7 linked regions of the Homo sapiens genome follow. The protein of the gene in region 7 purifies or fractionates together with the protein of the main gene of each other region. This does not show direct contact. Each region holds a gene or a part of one and is shown on either strand. Other genes may lie near its edges. The genes, in order: STX6, PPP2R3C, VAMP4, SDF4, STX12, ANKRD22 and VPS50.

What was found.
Region 1: the proteins of VPS50 (region 7) and STX6 purify together in Homo sapiens (pull-down; one study listed by IntAct). This does not show direct contact.
Region 2: the proteins of VPS50 (region 7) and PPP2R3C purify together in Homo sapiens (affinity purification with mass spectrometry, with the first as the bait; one large-scale study listed by BioGRID). This does not show direct contact.
Region 3: the proteins of VPS50 (region 7) and VAMP4 purify together in Homo sapiens (pull-down; one study listed by IntAct). This does not show direct contact.
Region 4: the proteins of VPS50 (region 7) and SDF4 purify together in Homo sapiens (affinity purification with mass spectrometry; one large-scale study listed by BioGRID and IntAct). This does not show direct contact.
Region 5: the proteins of VPS50 (region 7) and STX12 purify together in Homo sapiens (pull-down; one study listed by IntAct). This does not show direct contact.
Region 6: the proteins of VPS50 (region 7) and ANKRD22 purify together in Homo sapiens (co-immunoprecipitation; one large-scale study listed by IntAct). This does not show direct contact.

The regions. Positions count from the first base shown.
Region 1 is NC_000001.11:180,998,871-181,002,370, reverse strand, and holds part of STX6 (syntaxin-6), read left to right. Parts: intron 1-3,500. UniProt on the Homo sapiens protein: SNARE promoting movement of transport vesicles to target membranes. Targets endosomes to the trans-Golgi network, and may therefore function in retrograde trafficking.
Region 2 is NC_000014.9:35,094,491-35,097,990, reverse strand, and holds part of PPP2R3C (serine/threonine-protein phosphatase 2A regulatory subunit B'' subunit gamma), read left to right. Parts: intron 1-1,226; coding exon 1,227-1,282; intron 1,283-1,357; coding exon 1,358-1,433; intron 1,434-2,806; coding exon 2,807-2,943; intron 2,944-3,500. UniProt on the Homo sapiens protein: May regulate MCM3AP phosphorylation through phosphatase recruitment. May act as a negative regulator of ABCB1 expression and function through the dephosphorylation of ABCB1 by TFPI2/PPP2R3C complex.
Region 3 is NC_000001.11:171,735,566-171,739,065, reverse strand, and holds part of VAMP4 (vesicle-associated membrane protein 4), read left to right. Parts: intron 1-602; 5' UTR 603-651; coding exon 652-717; intron 718-3,500. UniProt on the Homo sapiens protein: Involved in the pathway that functions to remove an inhibitor (probably synaptotagmin-4) of calcium-triggered exocytosis during the maturation of secretory granules.
Region 4 is NC_000001.11:1,216,431-1,219,216, reverse strand, and holds the end of SDF4 (45 kDa calcium-binding protein isoform 2 precursor), read left to right. Parts: exon of another isoform or gene 1-283; intron 284-289; coding exon 290-448; intron 449-583; coding exon 584-759; intron 760-1,412; coding exon of another isoform or gene 1,413-1,528; coding exon 1,529-1,705; 3' UTR 1,706-2,286; downstream 2,287-2,786. UniProt on the Homo sapiens protein: May regulate calcium-dependent activities in the endoplasmic reticulum lumen or post-ER compartment. Isoform 5 may be involved in the exocytosis of zymogens by pancreatic acini.
Region 5 is NC_000001.11:27,811,219-27,814,718, reverse strand, and holds part of STX12 (syntaxin-12), read right to left. Parts: intron 2,557-3,500; coding exon 2,451-2,556; intron 1-2,450. UniProt on the Homo sapiens protein: SNARE promoting fusion of transport vesicles with target membranes. Together with SNARE STX6, promotes movement of vesicles from endosomes to the cell membrane, and may therefore function in the endocytic recycling pathway.
Region 6 is NC_000010.11:88,845,345-88,848,844, reverse strand, and holds part of ANKRD22 (ankyrin repeat domain-containing protein 22), read left to right. Parts: intron 1-3,500.
Region 7 is NC_000007.14:93,357,866-93,361,365, reverse strand, and holds the end of VPS50 (syndetin), read right to left. Parts: intron 3,050-3,500; coding exon 2,930-3,049; 3' UTR 243-2,929; downstream 1-242.

The sequences.
Region 1 (3,500 bases), on a different chromosome or scaffold from region 7:
ACCAGTCCGGGCAACATGATGAAACCCTGTCTCTACAAAAAAAAAATATAAAAATTAGCTGGGCATGGTGGTGCACACCTGTTGTCTCAACTACATGGAAGACCAAGATGGGAGGCTGAGGTGGGAGGATCAGGTTGAGGCTGAGAGCTATGATCACGTCACTGTACCTTAAAAAAAAAAAAAAATTTCCGTGATTGAAGAAAAAGAAATCTGTTTTTAATCTTTCTTTTTTTGACACAAGGTCTCACTGTGTTGACCAGGCTGAAATGTAGTGGCATGATCTTGGCTGACTACAACCTCTGCCTCCCAAATAGCTGGGACTACAGGCGTGCACCACCACACCAGGCTAATTTTTTGTAGAGACAGGGTTCACCATGTTGCTCAGGCTGGTCTTGAACTCCTGAACTCAAGTAGTTTGCCTGCCTCAGCCTCTCAAAGTACTGGGATTACTGGCGTGAGCCACCATGCCCAGCCTGTCAGGCTTATTTCCGAGAGCAAAAATGAGACAGTAATCTGCTGGCTTTGGGCAGGGTACATTCAAATGGTGTCATCCTGAATGATTAGACCCTTGTCCATACCTCTAGTTTCTTCAAGCTAGTTATCTTTCTCACTTTTTATTTCTTAGTGTACTCTATTTCTTGACGAACAAAACAATTGCTATTGTAGAAACCATTTGGTTTTTTGATTGATTGGTAATCACTTCGCATTGTTGAAGAGTGACTCTTAGTGGGTTTGGATAGCGGCCTCTTCCGCCATCTGAATTGCTTCTGGAACTCTTGCAACCCAAGATACTGACATTTCCATATGTAACTACTTGACAGCCGTTCCAGAGTTATCCAGAGCAAACAAGCATCTATCAGAGTGTAAAAAATTGATCCAAGTGAACAAATCTTTAGTTCTAAGTTATTTAGAATAATACCCATTATTAAAGAATCTGAGAAAAAATATTAAGTACAATCTTGTGTCATTAAAATGTTTCATATTTTGAAACTATATGGCTAAGCCATTTGATTAGCATAACTAGATGTAAGAGAACCAGCTGTCTTTAACATATGTACTAGAAAGCAGCTTCCTTGAATAAAAAGACTTGGGATCATACCAGTGCTAACATACGGCTTTTTAAGAGTCATCTTAGGCAGGAACCTTAGTTTGTGTTTGCCAAAGTCTTTATATCATGTGATTTCCTTTTGAAATTATTTCAAATGGTAGATTATCACTGAACTTTATATATTCTTGTTACTTGTTTTATTCATTAGTTGCCTTTCTATATACATATACGTAAATTGTTTATAGATAAACCCACATTTTAATGAGGGAGAAACCTTTCTGGACCTCAGATGCCCCATCCACAGTGAGTGTTTGGATTGGACATTCTTAATTTCTAGCCAGTTCAAAATACTGTTCTGATGAGGAAGCCTTGTTGTTAGGTGACATATTTTTTGTAAGATAAGTAAATCCCCAATTATTTTGTATAAGCTTTTTTTTTTTTTTTTTTGTAGTAGTAGGTTTTTTGAAGGATACTCCTATAGACGTTAATATTTAAGTGGGGCCTTGCAGTGAAGCATATGTCCTTAACCTTAATCATTATATTTATTTCTGCAAGGTAGACTTAGGAAGTTTGCAAATTGAAATTTAGAGGTTCGTATATTAAAAATTAAGTTCATTGGTATAATGGAAAGAAGAATCCAAAGTTCATTTTCTAATATCTGAAAAGCTTTTTAAAGTACATTCTTAGAAAGAGGTTGATATGATTTAGCTGTTTCCCCACCCAAAATCTCATCTTGAATTGTAATCCCCATAATCCCCATGTGTCAAAGGAGAGACCAGGTGGAGGTAATTGAATCATGGGGGCAGTTTCCCACATGCTGTTCTCATGATAGTGAGTGAGTCTCATGATAGCTGATGGTTTTATAAGGGGCTCTTCCCACTTTGCTCTGTCACTCTTCCCTGCTGCCTTGTGAAGAAGTTGCCTTGCTTCTCCTTCTGCCATGATTGTAAGTTTCCTGAGGCTTCCCCAGCCATGCTGAACTGTGAGTCAATTAAACCTCTTTCTCTTATAAATTACCCAGTCTCGGGCAGTTCTTTATAGCAATGTGAGAACAGAGTAATGAGAGGTATTCCAAATCAAGTCAGTACTTCAAAATCTTACTGTCCTTTTAGAGTTGAGATCTAAACCATACTCAACTATGTGATCCACCTGAATATTTTAGGGTTTTAAATCATTCTTGTTTAAATTTATGACCCCTTTGGGGGAAGCTGTTAGTATTTACCAGTGGTAGGCTAACAGTACCTAACTGAGCTTTTGCTGATCTGATTGTAATAAATTCTAGTTGAAAGTCCTATAGAAGAGGAGGAAATAGCAATGGTGCTAACTCGATTAAAAATAAAATATACCTTGTATAATTCCACATTACCACATTTAGCTAAACAGTGTTTGTATGTAGAGATTTCTGGGTTCTGGGTGGAAGAGCTCGATAGAGAGGGAGCAGAGGGTTAGCAGATTTGGAAAATGAGATGAAATGAAGTTCAAATTAGGAATTTGTACAAATTTATGTTAGTTCTTCTGTTACTATTACTAGTGGGCTTTCATTTAATATTGCTCCAAAATTTTGATTGACTTTATCTTTCAAACAGTGTATTCTACTTATGCTTTCTCTTTTGTAGGCAGGGGAGTCAGTGATACTCTATGCATTTTGTGGTTTTTTTTTTCTTTATTTGCTTCAACCTGAAGAAGTAAATCGCCTGTTTCTTCTTGATTAATGTCCATTGGTTATGCCTTTAGTAAGCTTTCCTTGTTTAGAGTTTTGTGTATGTTTTTCCAAGCATCTTTTAAGTCTGTACAAATCCAGTTTTGCTGGCAGTTTTTAGTGAAGAACCAAAATACTCACATTTTTGTGTAAATAGCTTTCATATTTTTGAGGTAATCATTTTTACTCTTGTGGAGTCACCTATACATCAAAGATTCCACATGTGAAATTTTTGTGTTTTAGAAATATATCCTAGAAGTGACTTTGGTTTTACTTTAGGATCAAGAGGTTTTGCAGTATATGGCAGAATAATGGTGAATATAAGGGGTAAGGGAACCTGAGTTCTAGGCTAAGCTGTGACCTTAATAAATCTTAACCATGGTAAGTCATTCAACCTCCCTGGATCTCAGTTTTATCTATGAAATAATCCTCACTAACATTCTCTGACTTTAAAAGTTAGAACTATTACCCTCTCCATGAAAAAACCGAACCTGCTCCAATGTAAGAATTGTTTACAGTCAATTGTAAGTCAAGATGGAAATGGCTTTGGTTAATCAAAAAGGGTGAAGTATCCAGTGTGAGCACAGATGACCTTGAAATGTAAGAATTATGAGTGGGAAGCACTGGGGTTTATGATGTCTCATTCATTCAGCTTGGAAGACAGTGTGAAATGGGAACAGAAGCATAAATAACCAGGACATTTGTTGTTCCTTTGGCAGATGAACCATATTTTATTGGGACTTGTTGCTTGAC
Region 2 (3,500 bases), on a different chromosome or scaffold from region 7:
ATTGTCCACATTTTATGTGTAAGGCAACTGAGACTTTGCTAGGTTACATATTTAAAAGTGGCATTCAAACTCCAATCTGGGCTAGGTGTGGTGGCTCACACCTGTAATCCCAGCACTTTGGGAGGCTGAGGTGAGAAATCACTGGTGCCTAGGAGTTCAAGACCAGCCCTGGCAAGACAGACCTCTTCTGTACAAAAAAGCAGCAGCAGCCAGGCGCAGTGGCTCACACCTGTAATCCCAGCACGTTGGGAGGCTAAGATGGGTGAATCATCTGAGGTCAGGTGTTCAAGACCAGCCTGGCCAACATAGTGAAACCCCATCTCTACTAAAAATAGAAAAAATTAGCTGGATGTGGTGGTGGGTGCCTGTATTCCCAGCTACTTAGGAGGCTGAGGCAGGAGAATCGCTTGAACCCAGGAGGCAGAGATTGCAGTGAGCTGAAATCACACCATTGCACTCCAGCCTGGGCAACAAGAGCGAAACTCTGTCTCAAAAAAAAAAAAAAAAAGAACAAGAACAAGACAAAACAAACTCTGCTCTTAAACCACACCTGTTTACCTGCGTATTGCTTTCTAGTCCAGAACCTGCCAAAAATAAATGGAGACAGTGTCCCTGTTCGTGTACCAGCAGTACTATATCTATAATCACAACTTTTTTGAAAATCTGACATCAGTATAATTTTAGAATTTACCACTTAGATTTATATAGTTGAGGTATACAAGTAGAGATGTTATTAAATGTTGCCTGTAGGTTTCTCTTTTTTTTTTGCAGGGTGGGGATGGAGTTTTGCTCTTGTTCCCTAGGCTGTAGTACAATGGCTTGATCTCAGCTCACTGCAACCTCTGCCTCCCAGGTTCAAGCGATTCTCCTGCCTCAGCCTCCAGAGTAGCTGGGATTACAGGCGCCCTCCACCACACCCAGCTAATTTTTTGTGTTTTTAGTAGAGATGGGGTTTCACCATGTTGGCCAGGCTGGTCTGGAACTCCTGACCTCAGGTGATCCACCTGCCTCAGCTTCCCAAAGTGCTGGAATTACGCGGTGAGCCACCGCGCCCAGCCGAGATTTCCCTTTTTGTAGCAATATGTAATAAGGACTTTGGAGCATAAGAGCTAGAAGCTTTAAAATATCAATTGTGTGATTGCTCTTGTTAAAAAAATTTTTTTTTAATTAATTGAGTTGCTCTTTTCTTAAAATGAAATTAATTGTGTTTCTTTATGTTCTTAAAGGAAAGATAAAAATTCAAGATATTTTAGCATGCAGCTTCCTAGATGATTTATTGGAGGTAAATGTTTTTAAACTACTTAATTGTATCACTTGACAGTTGCTATCTTCTAATTATGTCTTTGTGTTCCATTAGCTAAGGGATGAGGAACTGTCCAAGGAGAGTCAAGAAACAAATTGGTTTTCTGCTCCTTCTGCCCTAAGAGTTTATGGTATGTTCCTATCATAATGCTAAAATTTGAATTATCCATTCTTCAGGAAATTGGTGTTCAGAGGACAGTTTTATACATACACTGATATACCTTAAGATCAAAATATTTAATTACCTTAAGCTTTAGTATTCTACATTACCAAAATTTACTTGTTTAAATACCGATGTTTTAACTTTTTGGACTCCCCCCAACCTTTTCTTTTTGAAGACAGGGTCTCACTCTGTCACACTGGCTGGAGTGCAGTGACATGATCACGGCTCAGTGCAGCCTTGAAGTCCTAGGCTCAATCCTCTCACCTCAGTGCCCCTACCCCACCCACCCCACCACCCCCAGTACTGGGTCTACAGGCGCCATGCCTGGCTAATTTATTTTATGTTTTTTTAGAGATGGGATCTCACTGTGTTGCCCAGGCTGGTTTCAAACTCCTGGGCTCAAGCAGTCCACCTGCCCTGACCTCCCAAAGTGTTGGGATTATAGGCATGAGGCACTGCACCCAGCAGAACCCTTTTTAAGTTATACACTTCCTTTTCAATAGAACAGAATGTAATTTGATCCTTGTTGACTCAGGAGCATCATTATGAACATTAGCTATTGTCATGCTTTGTTGATAAAATGCTATTCCCAGGGTCTACTGATGGAGCTAATCTACATTATCTTGTTGGGTGGTCTTTTGACTCCTTTGGCTTTTTTTTTTTTTTTTTTTTTTGGAGATAGAGTCTTGCACTGTTACCTGGGCTGGAGTCCAGTGGCATGATCTCGGCTCACTGCAACCTCCACCTCCCAGGTTCAAGTGATTCTCCTTGCCTCAGCCTCCCAAGTACCTGGGATTACAGGCGCTCGCCACCACACCCGGCTAATGTTTTTTTTTTTTGTTTTTTTTTTTAGTAGAGACGGTGTTTCACTATGTTGGCCAGGCTGGTCTGGAACTCCTGACCTCTGATCTGCCCTCCTCAGCCTCCCAAAGTGCTGGGATTACCGGCGTGAGCCACCACGCCCGACCTCCTTTTGGCATTCTTATCTCTACTTTCAAGTGCTAGCATTTCAGTGCTTTTTGTTGGCCTCTACCTCCATTTAATTTAGAAACCTAGGAATGTTTAAAAAGACTGCAAACTGAAAACAAATAATGATGTAAGTGAAACAGCCCAGAGACTATGGCCTTCATGATGGGTTTTTTTGGCTGTTTCTAGCCCAAGGGTTTTTCTGATCAAGATTGCAAAGGTAGCTGATAGTATTACACATAGGCCACTACCCTAATCATAACATGAATAGTTTGAAAATCAAAATATTAACCAAGAAAAAACTTTTTGTTAGTCTATTCTTCTGATTAAAATTTTATTGTGGTCATAAGTGTCTTTATTATTTTTCTTCCCAAGGCCAGTACTTGAATCTTGATAAAGATCACAATGGCATGCTCAGTAAAGAAGAACTCTCACGCTATGGAACAGCTACCATGACCAATGTCTTCTTAGACCGTGTTTTCCAGGAGTGTCTCACTTATGATGGAGAAATGGTAGTAGTTTAAATCTGCTGCTAAGTTTTAAAAGTTTAGGCTCCCAGAGTTTCCACAAACCCTTTTCTTGATGTAATACAGCCCTTTTTTTTTTGAGACAGAGTCTTGCTCTGTCGCCTAGGCTAGAGTGCAGTGGTGTGATCTCCGCTCAATGCAACCTCCACTTCCTAGGTTCAAGTGATTCTCCTGCCTCAGCCTCCGGAGTAGCTGGGATTATGGGTGCATGCCACTGCATCCAGCTAATTTTTGTACTTTTAGGAGAGATGGGGTTTCACCAGGTTGGCCAGGCTGGTCTTGAACTCCTGACCTCAGGTGATCTGCCTCCCAAAGTGCTGGGATTACGAGGCGTGAGCCACCACACTCGGCCCAGCATTATTGATATCACTGTGTAACAGTGTCTTTAAAATGTGTAAACTGATCAAATTACTTGAGATTCAGAGTCTTTGGTCTTAACGTAAATTAAAACATCTGCATTATGGCCTCAGGGCAAATAGAAAAGCTTATTGTTCATTTCATTGTCAGTGCACCTACTGTACAGTAGTGCATTCTAGTTTTTT
Region 3 (3,500 bases), on a different chromosome or scaffold from region 7:
AAGGATATGTCAGGAAATGGGGATTAAGACCAAATGAGTATATTTTGTAAATCACGATATCACACCAGTACTTACCAAACTTACCCCTTTTCATGGAGTACCAATGGGACATTATAGTTTGCAGAATATTTTTGCATGTATTATCCAATTTGACCGTCCCAACTCTGCAGAAGCCTGAAAATCAGTATTTTACACCTGAGGAAACTGAATCATTGCTTAAGCAACCAACTAAAAGTGAGAGAAATAGGCATGTTCTCCTGTCTTCTGACTCCAACTTTAAATTGTAAAGCATTTAATGTCTCAGTGAGACGTCCTCCCTCTACTCTCTGCTCTTTCATTTTATAAAAATCTTAAATCACTCATATCCTACACATGTTCTCTTAGGGCAATTACATCCATTTTCTCATAATTTTAACTATTTCTTAGGTGTTGAGGTCTAGCATGGAGGCCCCAGTCACTGGAGTGGAACAAGTGAGAGGGCAGGAATTGAAGTCAGAAAAATGAGGGAGTCCCTGTCATACAGGGTTTCATGTACACTGTTTTAAGTACATTAGCTTATGCCCCAAAGTCTCAAATCTGATGAAATTTATTTTCTCTTTAAGGTGGTGACTATCCTGTTGAGAAGCAAAAGATACTTTGCAAGTAAAAAATATGCCTCCCAAGTTTAAGCGCCACCTCAATGATGATGATGTCACAGGTTCTGTGAAAAGTGAAAGGGTAAGTTCGGAATCTTAAGCTTTAAAAACAAAAGATTCAAAATATGTTTTCATTCCCTTTGTGAATAATAGAAGAAAAACCATCCGGGCGTGGTTGCTCATGCCTGCAATCGCCGCACTTGGGACGCTGAAGCAGAATAGCTTGAGCCCAGAAGTTCAAGACTGTCTTGGACAACCCAGGGAGACCCTGTCTCTATAAATAATTTTTAAAAAATTAATGGGGCATGGTAGCACATGCCTATGGTTCCAGCTATTCAAGAGGCTAAGGCAGGAGGATCACCTGAGCCTGGGAGATGAAGGCTGTGGTGAACTGTGATCTGCACTCCAGCCTGAGCAACAGAGCAAGACCCTGTCTCAAAAATTAATTAACTAATAATAATAACAACAGAAAAATCAAAAGCTTATGACTATATTCTAATCCTAATTGTTTTCTTCATAGCAAATGTATTTAAAAACATGTTACTTAGATTGGTGACAACTGAATTCTACTTCCATTATTGATCAAATCATTATTCTCATAGCTTCTTTCTAGTTTTTGAAAGGGAGTTTTATACAAATACACAATATCTTATTCAGAACTTTGAATGTATTTGGAATTTTTCAGATTTTAGAAAGTTAAGAACATATTATGTAACAGCATTTTTGGGGCCTGGACCAGTGCCTCCAAAAATATTAATATTTCTCAGTGAAGTCTATATTTAGTTATATCTAACTAACTATGTAAATAAAGTGTGTAAATAAACTAGCTAACATCAGTTCAGGTCAAATTTTCCTCCAAAACTTTTTGATTTTCAGAAGCTTTTAGATTTTGGAATTGCAAATAAAGGTCCCCAGACCTGTAATTATCTTATGTTCCAGAGTATCTTTTATATAATGCTTCAATTTCTAGTTTATTCCAGAACATTCTATGCAAATATATATAAATCTAGAAATTATGCCGCATTTAAAAGACAACATTTTATATGAATGTTGTAGGCAGATTACTTTTAGAATAAGTACTCAATACATATTTATTGGGGGAAATAATTCACGTTCTTATTTTTTTAATGCACCATTCTGAAGCCCTCCTTCCTTTCCTTCTTGTCTTGATTCATTCAACAAATATGTATTGACCACCTCCTATGTGCTAGGCACTGGGCTAAAAATTGGAAGACATAGTCTGTGCCCTTGCAAAGCTTTTAGTCTGCTTTGTTTTACATGCTCTTTTTGGACAACCTCAGAACTTCATATTATCCACTCTGTCCACCATCTTATGACTTTTAGTCATAAGTTTCTTTTAGTACAACACAGGAAACATTTTCTTCCCCTTATTCTAACCCTTTGTACAGCTTTTGCGGTTTTGTGTGTTTCTGATGGTTTGTTTTTATTTTTTGAGACCAGGGTCTCGCTCTGTCATTGAGGCTGAAGTGCAGTGGTGCAATCACAGCTCACTGCAGCCTCCACCTTTTGGGCCCAAGCTATCCTCCCACCCCAGCCTCCTGAGTAGCAAAGACTACAGGTGCATGATATCATGCCCAGCTAGTTTTTGTTTTTCTCGTAAAGATGGGGTTTTGCCGTGTTGCCCAGGCTGGTCTCAAATTCCTGAGCTCAAGTAATCCACCTGCCTTGGCCTCCCAAAGTGCTGGGATTACAGACATTTGACACTGCACTCGGCCTGTTTTGTTTTGTTTTGTTTTGTTTTGTTTTGTTTTGTTTTGTTTTTTAATGGGGAAATAGAATCCACCAATAGATTAATTGCTAGCAAGCTTTTACTAATAAACTTTAAGGAGTCACCAATGATTTCCATGTTGCCAAATCCAGTTACTCCTTCTTTGCCATAATTTCAACTGCTTACTAGCATTTGGTGCAGTTTCAACCATTTTGGTCACCTATCTTTTCCTCCATGCCATGGTGAAACTCTTAGTGTCTGCTTGAGCTAGTTCCCCATGCAAGGAATTGAGAAATGCCTTGAAATATACCAAGTCTGGGTGAACCCGGAAGGCTCTGGCCGAGAGAAGGCAGAGGATGATCAGGGATTGAGAAATCACTCAGGGATAATCCAGGGTCTCTTTCTTTAATGTAATATCTTTCAAGATAAACCTCCAAGAAAAAGTGATTCAGAAAATTTGATATACCTGTGCTGGAATTCCATACACTGAAGATTTACTATCAAAAGCATGTCTTGGCCAGGCGTGGTGGCTCGCGCCTGTAATCCCAGCACTTTGGGAGGCCGAGGCGGGCAGATCACTTGAGGTCAGGAATTCAAGACCAGTCTGGCCAACATAGTGAAACCCCATCTCTAGCAGAAGTACAAAAATTAGCCAGGTGCGGTGGTGCACACCTGTAATCCCAGCTACCTGGGAGGCTGAGGCAGGAGAATTGCTTGAATCTGGGAGGCAGAGGTTGCAGTGAGCCGAGATTGTGCCATTGCACTCCAGCTTGGGTGACAGAGTGAAATTCCATCTCAGAAAGAAAAAAAAAGCATGTCTTTACAAAGCAGAAGGTTTGGCGAAATACTAAACCCATTCAGAGAATAAATGTCAATTTGTTAAAGTAAATGATACCAATTGTGAACCTATAAAGGAACCCAGTGTAAAACAACACAGACTTGATATGCATCCAGTAAAAGCTGACTGAAAGCTCCTGATGAATATTCAGTGATCAGCGTGCACAAAGCATGCTGAAATATTTTTTAAATCATCGGTTAGAAGAATCTGAGCCTCTTTCCTATTGCCCCAAGGAAATCTTTAGTCACTTACCCAGAGATGCTTGCAAAGCATTAATATCCTGGAAGATGATCAATAA
Region 4 (2,786 bases), on a different chromosome or scaffold from region 7:
GGGCAGGGGGGGGTCCAGGCTGTCTTGGGGAGTCCGGGCTGTGTGGAGGGGTCCAAGCTATGCCTTTGGGGATCAGGCCTGTGGGAGGCTCTGGGTTATGTCTTGGCGGGGGTCCAGGCTGTGTCTTAGGGGCTGGGCCATGTTCTGGGGACGTGTGAATCCTGGAGGGTGGGGCCCCGGTCTCGCGGGTGGCTGTGTCCCTCGAGTTCAGGCAGCACCTCTCGGAACTTTCTGGATTTGCGTGCTGGCGTCTGTCGGCCTCGATACCCACAGGCTGCGCCCCTCTCAGCACAGGAAGTCCTGGAGAACCTGAAGGACCGCTGGTACCAGGCGGACAGCCCCCCTGCAGACCTGCTGCTGACGGAGGAGGAGTTCCTGTCGTTCCTCCACCCCGAGCACAGCCGGGGAATGCTCAGGTTCATGGTGAAGGAGATCGTCCGGGACCTGGGTGAGGCTGGGTCCAGCCTGGCCGGCACGCCAGGACCCAGGACCGACTGGCAGGGGCCGGGCATCGTCGGGAGGTCGGGGCAGGTCCTGCGGGAGCCCCAGCCTGGGTGTGGGCTGACCCATTCCCGTCTCGCAGACCAGGACGGTGACAAGCAGCTCTCTGTGCCCGAGTTCATCTCCCTGCCCGTGGGCACCGTGGAGAACCAGCAGGGCCAGGACATTGACGACAACTGGGTGAAAGACAGAAAAAAGGAGTTTGAGGAGCTCATTGACTCCAACCACGACGGCATCGTGACCGCCGAGGAGCTGGAGGTGAGCCCTGGCGCAGCCGTGTCCCGGAGCCGGCCCTGCGAGGTGCTGTGGCGGGAGGGGCTGGTGGATCTGGGCCTGAGGCAGGAAGCTGTGCTGGTGTCTGGCCTGAGACTCCATCTGGGCTGGTCACTGGGGCGTTTGCTCAGCGGTGTCCACCAGGCTGCATGGCCGTTGTTGGCGTTTAGGTTCAGACGGATCAGAGACAGGCGAGCCTGGCCGGGCTCCATCCTCAGCCCCTTGCGGAGGCGTCAGGGTTCTCACAGCCCCTTTTTAACGGGACCACAAGGGGAAGCTCATGCTGGGCCCAGCATGGAGGCAGGTCCAAGGCCCAGCAGGTGCAGGTGGGCGGGGCGGCCTGTGCCACATGGCTGGAATTTACCACCTTCCTCTGAAGCGTTTTCACTGGTATCATGTGTAGGCTTGTTTTTCTCCCACTGCTGAGTGAGTCATCTTGTTTTTATGTAGAATCCTGTGATTCCTGGCGACAGCCAGTGGGCCCGGCCCAGGTTAGGGATCCTTCAGAACTGGGGTCCAGGCCTGTGTAGCCCCTGTGCCCCGTTACCCCTGCTGGCCCCGGGCAGGCCTTCCGGGGCCCCCGGCTTCTCCCTGCCCTGTGTTTTCATTTGTGCCGCCTCCCTTCGGGAACCTTCCAGAACGTGCCCACACTCCCGCTGCAGCCAATAGGCACCTTAAATAGCCACTTCGTGCGGCTGGCCGCGGAGCTCGGAGGGGGAAAGGCGACGCTGACCTGTGCCCCGCTCGCCCGCAGAGCTACATGGACCCCATGAACGAGTACAACGCGCTGAACGAGGCCAAGCAGATGATCGCCGTCGCCGACGAGAACCAGAACCACCACCTGGAGCCCGAGGAGGTGCTCAAGTACAGCGAGTTCTTCACGGGCAGCAAGCTGGTGGACTACGCGCGCAGCGTGCACGAGGAGTTTTGAGCGCCCGGCCGCGCCCCGCGCCGCCCCCCACGCACCACCGGGGCGGCCTCGCGGGTGACTCCGGGCTCCGTGGCTGTCCCGGACCCCACCTCTTCCCTGCCGCCCGCCACCGGCCGACCGACCGCGGCTGCCCCAGTTGATGAGCGGCGTGTCCCCTCTGCAGCGCGCACCCCGGCGGGGCTTTGGCTGTGACGCGGTCGGGGCGCGGGGCTGGGCTGTGGCCCCGCGGCGCCGCCTCCTCCCTGGTCCCTCGAAATCGTGGCATCTCACTTCTGAGAACGAAATCTCGCTTCAGTCACTCTGCCGAAGGCGCTGACGGCATCGCGGCCGGAACCTCTGGGCCCGGCCCCTCCCAGGGCCGCCGCTCCGTGGGAAAAAACAGCTCCTCCATTTCCTTGAAAACTGAACGATTATTAAAAATAGATTAAACTTCGCTGGAAATGAGTAGCCAGGAAGTTCAGGGGAGGGTGCCGGGTCCTTCCCGGGCCTGGCGTGTCGGAGCCACCCAGGTCCCGCAGCTGCCGCTGAGAAAATGCAAATATTTGTTGTGACAAGAATCACATACATTTACTTTAAATATAGTTGCCTTTTTTGGTCAGCTTCATTCTTTGGGCGTGAAACAAAACACAACAGCAGCGTGCTAGGTTTGTGGTTACAGTTTCCACTGGAGCGCTGGAGGCTGGTGCTGGGTCACGTGGAGGGTTGGAGGTCATGGCCGGTTCGAGGTGATTCTCCTGGCAGGTGGCAACGGGCAGGGGCTCTGGGAGGACGGAGGGCAGCGCTGCGTTTGTGAGTAGGGGTCAGGGGGCAGCAGACGTGCCCACTGAGTTTGGGGTTTGGACATTTAAGGCAGGAGACAGAGCCGCCTGGGGGTTTTGGGTGGAGGATGGCAAGGTCTTTGGGTGCAGTGGGGCAGGCCTAGCCCCAGATGGGGCAGAGAATGGGGTGTGTTAGGACGGCTGGTGGGGGTCCTGCTCTGTGGCGTGTGGGGGCCCAGGCTGTGTCCTGGCTCTCCCAGTGGGAGCTCAGGGAAGCCGGGAGTGTGTCCTCTTCAGTCTGCCCTGTGGTGCCCATGTGACCG
Region 5 (3,500 bases), on a different chromosome or scaffold from region 7:
ACCACCACACCCGGCTAATTTTTTGTGTTTTTAGTAGACACGGGGTTTTACCATGTTGGTCAGGCTGGTCTTGAACTCCAGACCTCAGGTGAGCCACTCGCCTCAGCCTCCCAAAGTGCTGGGATTACAGGCATGAGCCACCGCGCCCGGCTAGTAATTTTTCTTTGAAGGAAGGATTATTATTATTATTTGAGACAGAGTCTTGCTCTGTTGCCCAGGCTGGATTGCAGTGGCACGATCATGGCTCACTGCAGCCTTGATCTCCTGGGCTCAAGTGATCTTCTGCCTCAGGCTCCTGAGTAGCTGGGACCACAGGTACATGTTACAGCACCCGGTTAATTTTTTATTTTTTGTAGAGGTAAGGTCTTGCTACACTGCCCAGGCTGTCTTGAATTCCTGGGCTCAAGCAATCATCCTGCCTCAGCCTCCAACTTGCCGGGATTACAGGCATGAGCCATTGCACTTAGCCATATTTCTAATGTTAGACAATTAATTCAATTAGTAGTAGCAGTAGGTGAAAAAGAGTAAAGATATGACATTTTTGAAGGCAATAAAATAATCATAACTTAAGGATAAACTATCCCATCTAAAAACAGACAAGACCAGCCTGGCCAAAATGGCAAAACCTCGTCTCTACTAAAAATACAAAAATTAGCCAGGAGTGGTGGCGGGCACCTATAATCTTTGCTACTCAGGAGGCTGAGGCAGGAGAATCGCTTGAACCCAGGAAGTGGAGGTTGCAGTGAGCCAAGAACGCGCCACTGCACTCCTGCCTGGGTGACAGAGTAAGACTCTGACTCAAAAAATAAATAATAAATAGATAAAAACAGACATTGATGGCCTTTAGGGCAGTGGGTCTCAACCCTGGCTGCATATTATAATCACCTGGGGGAACTTTTTAAAAAAATACCCATGCCCAGGGCCTCACGCCCAGAAATTATGATTTATTAGTTTGAACCATATAAAATAATGGATATTTGCCCATTTTTAACATATAATAAACAGGAATTTCACATTATCCCATCAGGTAATTAGTGGTGGATGAGAGCTGGGGCATTAAAAAAAAATCTTCTCCAGGTGATCCTCATGTGCACTCACAGTTCAGAACCACTGCTACAGATGGAGGCCAAGGAAGAGCTCAAAATTTCCCTCTCTCCTTTTCTCCTCCCCTGATCCCAGCAATGGCAGCCTTCTACCTTCGGAGAAAACTAAACTGGAGAAAACTCAGGTTTAAGGATATTTTAGCTGGGCACAGTGGTTCATGCCAGTAATCCCAGCACTTTGGGAGGCTGAAGCAGGCAGATCACTTGAGGTCAGAAGTTCAAGACCAGCCTGGCCAAAATGGCAAAACCCTGTCTCTACTAAAAATACAAAAATTAGCCGAGTGTGGTGGTGCGTACTGGTAGTCTCGGCTATTCAGGAGGCTGAGGCAGGAGAATCACTTGAACCCAGGAGAGGGAGGCTGCAGTAAGCTGAGATAGTGTCATTGCACTCCTGCCTGGGCGACAGAGCAAGACTTAGTCTCGGAAAAAAAAAAAAAAGGATATTTTATTAGTCACTGTGCAAAATTAAAGTTGAAAGCTCAGTTAGGTAAGAAAGGCCTACAGACTTCTCCCTCAACCTCCACCTCAAAAACTGTTCCTATTTCTCTGACTCACTGAAGGGATAAGATGTACAACTTGGGATTAGACTTTAGGATATACAAAAATGGAGCAAGACTTTTGGCCTGCCTTTATTCTGGGCTCTTCAGACTAAGCAAAGGGGCTCTCCATGGAGTCCTGCCTAACCCGGAGGTTGGCATTGAGATTTGAGGTCAAAGTTCTAATGAGCAATAAAATATCTGTCTGCCTTGTTCTGTTCTCCATGTACATTTCTCCAGGAGAAATAAGATGTGGTGATCCGTATAAGATGTGGTGATTGAGGAAAGGATTTGAGTACTCCTGGGCACCAAGGCCAATGCCATTATAACAGTAGTTCATGCCAGGAGCGGTGACTCACGCCTGTAATCCCAGCACTTTGGGAGGCCGATGAGGGTGGATCACCTGAGGTCGTGAGTTCAAGACCAGCCTGACCAACATGGAGAAACCCCGTCTCTACTAAAAATACAAAATTAGCTGGGCGTGGTGGCACATGCCTGTAATCCCAGCTACTCGAGAGTCTGAGGCAGGAGAATCGCTCGAACCCAGGAGGCAGAGGTTGCAGTGAGCCAAGATCACACCACTGCACTCCAGCCTGGGCAACAAGAGCGAAATTCCATCCAAGATAAAAAAAAAAACAAAAAAAACCGGTAGTTCAAACCCACCATGATTACACTGAGACAGAAAAAATACAAATCACACAATGACACATTTTATGCCTTTTCATAATCACTAAGAGAATTAAAGTGAACTAAGGAGTTCAGATACCTGCAGACACACTGAGTCAAACAAAAAACATGACGTGGCTCTCACCTCCAGCTGCCGAATTGCCGTTTCTCTTTCTTTAATAAGTTCCAAATCCTGCTCAGTGATGGCCACCTCATCCTCCTGGCTCTGCATCTGGTTCCACTCCTCATGGCTGCAGGGAAACAGGCACACTAGGTGATTTCTCCTCTCAAAGGCATAACAAGACATATCTCCAACATCTCTACTGCCAGCAGAACCTATGCAAAGACATTACCAGGGCTCCAGTCCTCTGCTATCAATAAAGTCTTGGAGGGCCACATTCTTCATATCCAGAAGCAAAGAGCTGATGATATCAGGAAAACAAAGACTCAGCTTCCATGGGCAAAGCTGACATGTGGCAGAATTATGACGGATGGGACTCCTGGCTGTTTCCATTTAGGGGTATACTCTGTAATCTCACTGGGGCTTGCCAGACAAGGAAAGTAGCCAGAGATTTGAACTCATTGAATTATGTTGCACCATCATCTTCCAGGGCACTCTCAAAGTGCAAGCTGCATTAGTACCTTCAGTACTAAGTGGGTGGAGAAGAGCAAGCTAAGTGACCTATCAGTGCTTTGCCAGTTAGTTCAACAGAATCACATCTCCTAGTTTTCCAAAATTTCCTTGGGGTTATGCTTTGGGTTAAATACCTCTTAACAGGCCAGGCGCGGTGGCTCATGCCTGTAATCCTAGCACTTTGGGAGGCCGAGGCAGGAGGACTGCTTGAGGCCAGGAGTTCAAGACCAACCTGGCTAACATAGCAAAACCCTCATCTCTATTAAAAAACAATCCATAAAAAACCCTCTTAACAGAAAGCTAGTGAAATGTTATAACACTTTTTAAAAAATTCTTTTTAGAAATGGGGGTCTTGCTTTGTTGCCCAGGCTGGTCTCAAACTCCTGGCTTTAAGCTATCCTCCTGCCTCAACCTGCCAAAGTGCTGTGATTACAGGCTTGAGCCACCATGCCTGGCTTTTTTTTTTTTTTTTGAGACGGAGTTTCGCTCTTTCATCCAGGCCGGAGTGAAGTGGCGCTTACTTCACTCCGCCCCCCGGGTTCAAGAGATTCTCCTGCCTCA
Region 6 (3,500 bases), on a different chromosome or scaffold from region 7:
TATTGGAAAAGCTGGTACAGTTGAGGAGGAGAAGTCAGGGAATACAGGAATAGAGATGTGACTAATTGAATGGCCATTGGACTGAAAGTCAAGCAATCCTATATTTTAGACCTGATTGTGCCAGGAACTTCAAGGGATTTGAGAGGAAGTCATTTAACCTCTCTGAGTCACAGTTTTAATATTACAAAACAAGAGAGCTGAATGAGATCTGGTTTCACATTTAACATCGTGTCATTCTGTGATATGAGAAAGGCTAGGCAGAGACAATGGGGAAAAAATTGCATTCTCACAATCTTCCCAGCTCTCTCCATCTACCTTGTTTATGTATGAACTCCTAGCAAGATTTTGGTATTCAACAACATATGCAAGAAGAGCATCAGGCGTTTTCATCCCAACTGGTTTTCTAATTCTTTCCTTGTATATTGAAAGTAATTTTACAAATTAAAATGTTGTGCTAAGTCACAAAAGTTCAGAGAGAAAATGATAACTTTCACATATGAAAAGACACCAGGATTGAAAATGTGTATACCTTTATTTATTTATTCATTCACCCATCCATTTGTTTAATCAACCATATTTATTGAGTACATACTATGTTTCAGGCATCTTCTAGTTCCTGGTGTATATATGTATATATATATGTATATATACATATATACATATATATATACACATATATACATATATATATATACACGCATATATGTTGGGCATCCCTAATCTGAAAATTTGAGTGGAAGTGCTCCAAAACTCCAAATTTTTGAGCACAAACATGAAACAAGTAGAAAATTTCCTACTTGACCTCATGTGATGGGTCACAGTCAAAATGCAGGTACACAATGCACAGTTTACTCAGAATTAACAAGAGAAAAAAGAATTTCCCAGCCCCTTTCGGCTGTGATATATCTTTTTCTTGAACACCCAGTTTTTCCCATGAAAGCAAGTCCACAAAGGGTAAAAAATGGCACCTGTGCAGGATGAATGAGCCTATAGCAGATTTGCCACTCTGCCTCCATGGGGCCAAGATTTGTGTGTATTTCTCTGTGTGTGTCTTTTTTTGTTTTTTGGGGTTTTTTTTTATTTTGTTTTTGTTTTGCTTTTTCTCTACTCTGTGATGTAAATATACTGTTGAAAATATCAAAAAGGTCTGCAGATACTTATGGGTAACAGTGATAAGAAAAAAAAAGGAAGCATTTATGTATACTTATAACACAGAAAGTCAAGCTTTTGGATAAATTGGACAGTGGTATAGGTATAAAATGTCTGATAGAAGAGTATGGTGTTGAGGCCAGGCGCAGTGGCTCATGCCTGTAATTCCAGCACTTTGGGAAGCTGAGGCAGGTGGATCACCTGAGGTTGGGAGTTTGAGACCAGCCTGGCCAACAAGGTGAAACCCTGTCTCTACTAAAAACAGAAAAATTAGCTGGGTGTGGAGGCATGTGCCTGTAATCCCAGCTACTTGGGAGGCTGAGGCAGGAAAATTGCTTGAACCTGGGAGGCAGAGGTTGTAGTGAGCTGAGATCACATCACTGCACTCCAGCCTGGGCAACAGAGTGAGTCTCCATCTCAAAAAAGTAACAATAAAAAAAGAGTATGGTGTTGAAATGACCACCATATATGACTCAAAGAAATAGAAGGATAAACTGTTTAAGTCCTATGCTGAAGTTAATGAAAAATGTAAAAAAACATTCCACAAAGCTACAAATGAAGATCCCAATTGTGTATTGAGAAAGTGGATCCATCAGTATCACAAAGAACACATGCCACTTAATGGTATGCTGATCATGAAACAGGAAAAGATCTATCACGATGAACTGAAAATTTAAAAGAACTGCGAATATGCGTAGTTCTTTGGCATAAATTTAAGAAAAAACATGGCATTAAATTTTCAAATATTTGTAGTGACGAAACATCTGCTGATCAGAAAGCAGCAGAGAAATTTATTGATGAGTTTGCCAAGATCATCACTGATAAAAATTCTCACACTAGATCAAGTCTATAGTGCTGATGAAACATCACTGTTTTGGCATTATTGCTTCAGAAAGACACTGACTTCAGCCGATGAGACAGGCCTTGTGGGCAATCAGGATACCAAGGACAGGATAATTGCGCTGGGATGTGCTAATGCAGCAGGCACACACAAATGTAAACCTGCTGTAATAGGCAAAAGCTTGAATTCTCACTATTTTCAAAGAGTAAATTTCTTACTAGTCCATTATCATGCTAACAAAAGGCATGGGTCACCAGGGACATCTTTTGTGATTGTTTTCACAACATTTTGTAGCAATGGCTCATGCTCACTGCAGGGAAGCTGGACTGGATGAAGGCTGCAAGATTTTGTTATTCCTTGACAACTTTTATGCTTATTCTTCAGCTAAAATTCTCATCAAAAGTAATACTTATTCCATGTGCTTTTCCCCAAATGTGACTTTATTAATTTAGCCATGTGAGAATGGTGTCCTTAGATCAATCAGTGTAAATATAAAACATTTTCGTAAACAGTATGTTATCAGCAGTGAACATAGGTGTGGGTGTTTCGCATAAAGGATGTTGTATATGCTGTTGCCAATGCTTGTAATGCAGTAACTAAAGACAGTTGTGCATACCTGGCATAACCTCTGTCCTGCAACTATGTTCAGTAAGTATTATAAATAAAGTGACTTTGAATGATTCTGTATGTCAAATGAGAAAAAAAAAAGATGTCTGACCATACATACGCAAAAAAAAGTACCTTCAGAGTCCACCAGTAAGTTGGAAGAAGTTGATATTGAAGAAATTTTTAACACTGATAATGAGGCTCCAGTTGTTCATTTATTAACCAATGGTGAAATAGCTGAAATGGTTCTGAATCAAGATGATTGTGATAATAGCAATAATGACGATGGTGGTTAACACTGTAAAGACTTTGTCAGGGGCCAGATCAGGCAGGTCTTGTAGGCCAAGGTGAAAAATTTAGATTTTATGCAAAACACAATGGAAAGCGGGTAAAGGATCTTAAGAGAGGAATAATATGACCATTAGGGTTTAAAAAGGCCACTCTGGTAGCATGGGAGAATAAATTTGAGAGATGCCAGAGGGAAAGCTGGATCTTGGAAGGAAGCTGTTACAGTAGTTTATGGAGTGATAATGATGGTTGCATTAGACTAATGGGTGAATTTTAGATAAATTTTTAACTAAAAGATTTCCTGGTTTGTAGGTTGGCAGTGAAGGAAAGTAAGAAATTAAAGTTGATACTCAGTATTCTGCCTTAGGCCAGCCAGTGGATGGTGGTGCTGATGAGATGGGAACACTCAGAGAGGGGCAGAAGGAAAGACACATTTCAGGGTTCTATTTGGACATGGTACTTTAGCGATATCCATGAGACATCTAGGTGGGGATGGAAGATGAATACAGGAAATGTACCTTTAAGGAGAGGCTCGGGCAAGAGATAATAATTTAGGAGTTGTCTGCATATACATGGTATTTAACGCCAAGAGAAGGGATGAGTTTAGACATGGAAA
Region 7 (3,500 bases):
AAGAAAAAATCTGTAGAAAGCTGCACCAGTCTTAACATTTACAAAGATTATACCAGACTATTAATAATTCTCATCATTAATCATTGTCAGAAGCTAAATATCATTTTGTTAACCACTAATCCGAATCAAAATTATTCCAAAAAGAAATATATATATAATATATATATATGTATATATATGGAAATCCCCCCCACCCTGTACTTCTATGTGCTTTGAGCACAACTTGTATTCATCAATTCATCTTCAGATCTAGTTTTTTATTACAAAAGACAACTATGCTTACAAGGTGAATTGAATTACAAGCCTTTTACTACTTTTTGGTGAGTTAAGAAAAAGCTATTTAATCTAACAAAGTTTCACTTTAGCACTCAGCTAAATAGAAATTTCGAAATTTTATTTAAAGATATGATAAAATACCATATGGCCCTGGTTTCAAGAGAAATTCATTTAATAAGTTGTGTAAATGAGTTTATTAGTTAAAGTGAACTTACAAAATCTCTGTTGGTTTTATAAACCAAAGCAAACTAGTTCATTTGAATTGCTATGTGCCCCCCTAGCATTTTTAAATGCAAGACAATGTATTTGTAGAAATGATCATTCTTTCTCAGGGAATGCTAATTTACCATGCTCCCATGGTAAATTCTACAGGAAACTTTCATGGAAAATGTCAAAGTTAAGGAAAGTTTAGACTCAAAAATAATAAATTTTTGGTAATGATAGTTTTTGGAACACGTATAATTCCATTTACATTCTCAGCTTTTCAATTGTATTTATCTGAAAATTAGTTTCATAAAATGTTACATGGTTATAACTCAATATTACTGTATAAAGTATTTGAGAAATGTCTGGTAACTCTCTTGTGATTAGGTAACTTCATGACTCAAACCTCCTGTTACTGTTTTGATGCTAGCTAGCACTTATTAAGCTACCTTTTAATGAAAAAAAAAAAAAAAAAAAACCTTTTTCAAAAAGCATTAAAAAGATCCACCATTTCATTTTGAAGATGGAGAAAGCAAAGTAAGGGTAGGTTAAAAGGTCTGTCAGATTGCATGGTCGAGTCTCTAACAAGATAAGTAATTCTTTTGTATCAATTCCTATTACCTTGGAAAACACTGGGCTCTACCAGGCAGGTGATTCCTGTTCATATTATCTAGGGCCAACTAAAGTAGAAATTAAAGGAAACCAACTATAAAATCCATGTAGAAGAGAAAAATAAGCAGCTCTTCATCAACTGCAAATTTTAAAAGATTGATTAGCTCTTTATGTGCCCAGCTAAATATGCCATTTAAACTCAAGGACCAAGCTTATCTCATGTTTGTTTTCTTCAAGTGGCTGCATATAAATAATGGCTACAGGCAGAATCTACTTCACAAGTATATAATCTAGCCACAACCAAATCATAATGGCACCAAACTCATACCTTTTTACAAGAGGAAAGTTTTAAATTGACAGTAAATGAACTCCGACATGAGAGGATGAAAAGAAAACACTCAGCATACAGACACACACAAACATATTCTGAAAGTGCTTCACATTACACTGTGCATTTACAGACATCGCAGGGACTGATGGACACAGAGTAGCAATTGTTTCCTTATCACCTCCATGCTTGATCACATGCCATTCTGTGCCATCCATTTTATCACCTTAGGTCCCAGAAGACTCATAAGACCCAAGGCCTGTTTCTCACATGATTCCTTAGGATTCTGTGAGCTGTTGATGTTACAGGTCATGCATGGCAATCATTGGACCAATGCCACACAAGCTTAGATGTCCTCCACTCTCCAGTCAGAAAGAACACACACAAAATTCCTTATCAGACAGTTGGCAAGAGTACATGGAAAATGGATTTTTATGTCACATACATTAGGAGAAGATCCCTGGCTTCAGGGCAAAGTTTAGAGGAACAGCACATACTTACTGAAGACTAAGTGGATTCCAGAGTTCATCATTGGCTAGACTGATACTATTTTACATTTGTGTTATAAAAGGTGGATATTTAAGAAGAGTGAACATATGACCGTACATTTATGAGTGACTAGCAGACAACTGTTTCCTGAGTCAGTCAACCTGGGTTTTACTGTCCTAAGACAAAATCTGAATTTAAAGAGACCAAAACTTTCAACAAAAAAACCACATATTTTTATAAAGAAAGATAAAAGAAAGTCTCATAATCATGATTCTGTATGCTACTCAGGCATTGAAAAGGTACCCTCAATGAAATTACTTTTCACCATTGGTTTCAGGATATAAAACAATTAAAATTAGAACACACTAAAAGCTGCACTATAGTTCATGACATCTGCATGCCACACAAAAAATCAAAATGTAGTCTCACATAGGCTGATCATACTAGAGTATATTTATTAAATTTCACCATTATGATCACTTTGTTATAACTAAATTAACCCTGACATAAACTTTGACATTTTAAAAACAGAGAACATACTGATTTTTCAACTATTTTACTTACATGTGTTTTTTAATTCTCATGCAGTGCTCATAATTAGGAGATACTACATATTCACCCTCACATTATGCTTATTAAGAACCAAGCTCAGAGGGTAGAAAAGTGCCAACTTCATTTTCCATAAACTTCCCATACATATATTAAGCCACTGTTCTTCTAATTATATACTTATGGTACATTCTTCTGTAAAATGTATAACTGTAGTCACATAACCATTGTTATGACAAGGCGGCAACATCATTTCAGATTACAACAAATGAGACCAAAAGTTGAAGAGACCACAGCATATAAAAGTCATGAGAACACCACACACATTTCAATATTTTCCACTTTCCAGTCAAAAAAACATGCACAAAGTTTTCTTAGCAGATAGTTGTCAGAAGTGCATAAAAAAACTGGCTTTCAGGTCATATATGTTGAGTGAGGATCAATGCCATTGAGGAAAGAGAGCTGTGTTCATTATCTTTTAGGTCTGTCTATATCATCTATAGCTGCTAGAAGTTTTTGTCTTGCTTTCTTATTGATATGGGATCCCAGGCAAACATTCACCAGATTGGTCAGCTGCTTCGTTGAATATTCCTGCTCAAAGAAGAAAGATCCAAATTTAGTACCCTAAAAGGAATGTATCTGATCAGTGCAACAAAAGAACAGGCGGATATTCAGGTGCAGTGGATAGTTACTGAGCATTATAAACCAGTGAAAAACAGTGGAAATTACAGTTGGGACATGGAAGGCAAATTGTTTACTGAGCTGTAATAGGAGAGAATAAGAATACTATAGTACACATTTGAAACAGTAAGCACTAGAATCTGTTTTAATATGGCAAAGCAATCTGACATGCGTATGCTTCTTACTGCTTTGATGATCACACACTTTACACTTGTTTCTGTAATAGTCTTTGTTATTGAGTCATCAAAATACACTGACATTTCAAATTTTTTAAATGCTACTGATGAAGTATTTTTCTGGCCCTCTACATTTTGTAAACACTTTAGTTAAAAAAAAAATCTCCAACAACAGAAGAACAACT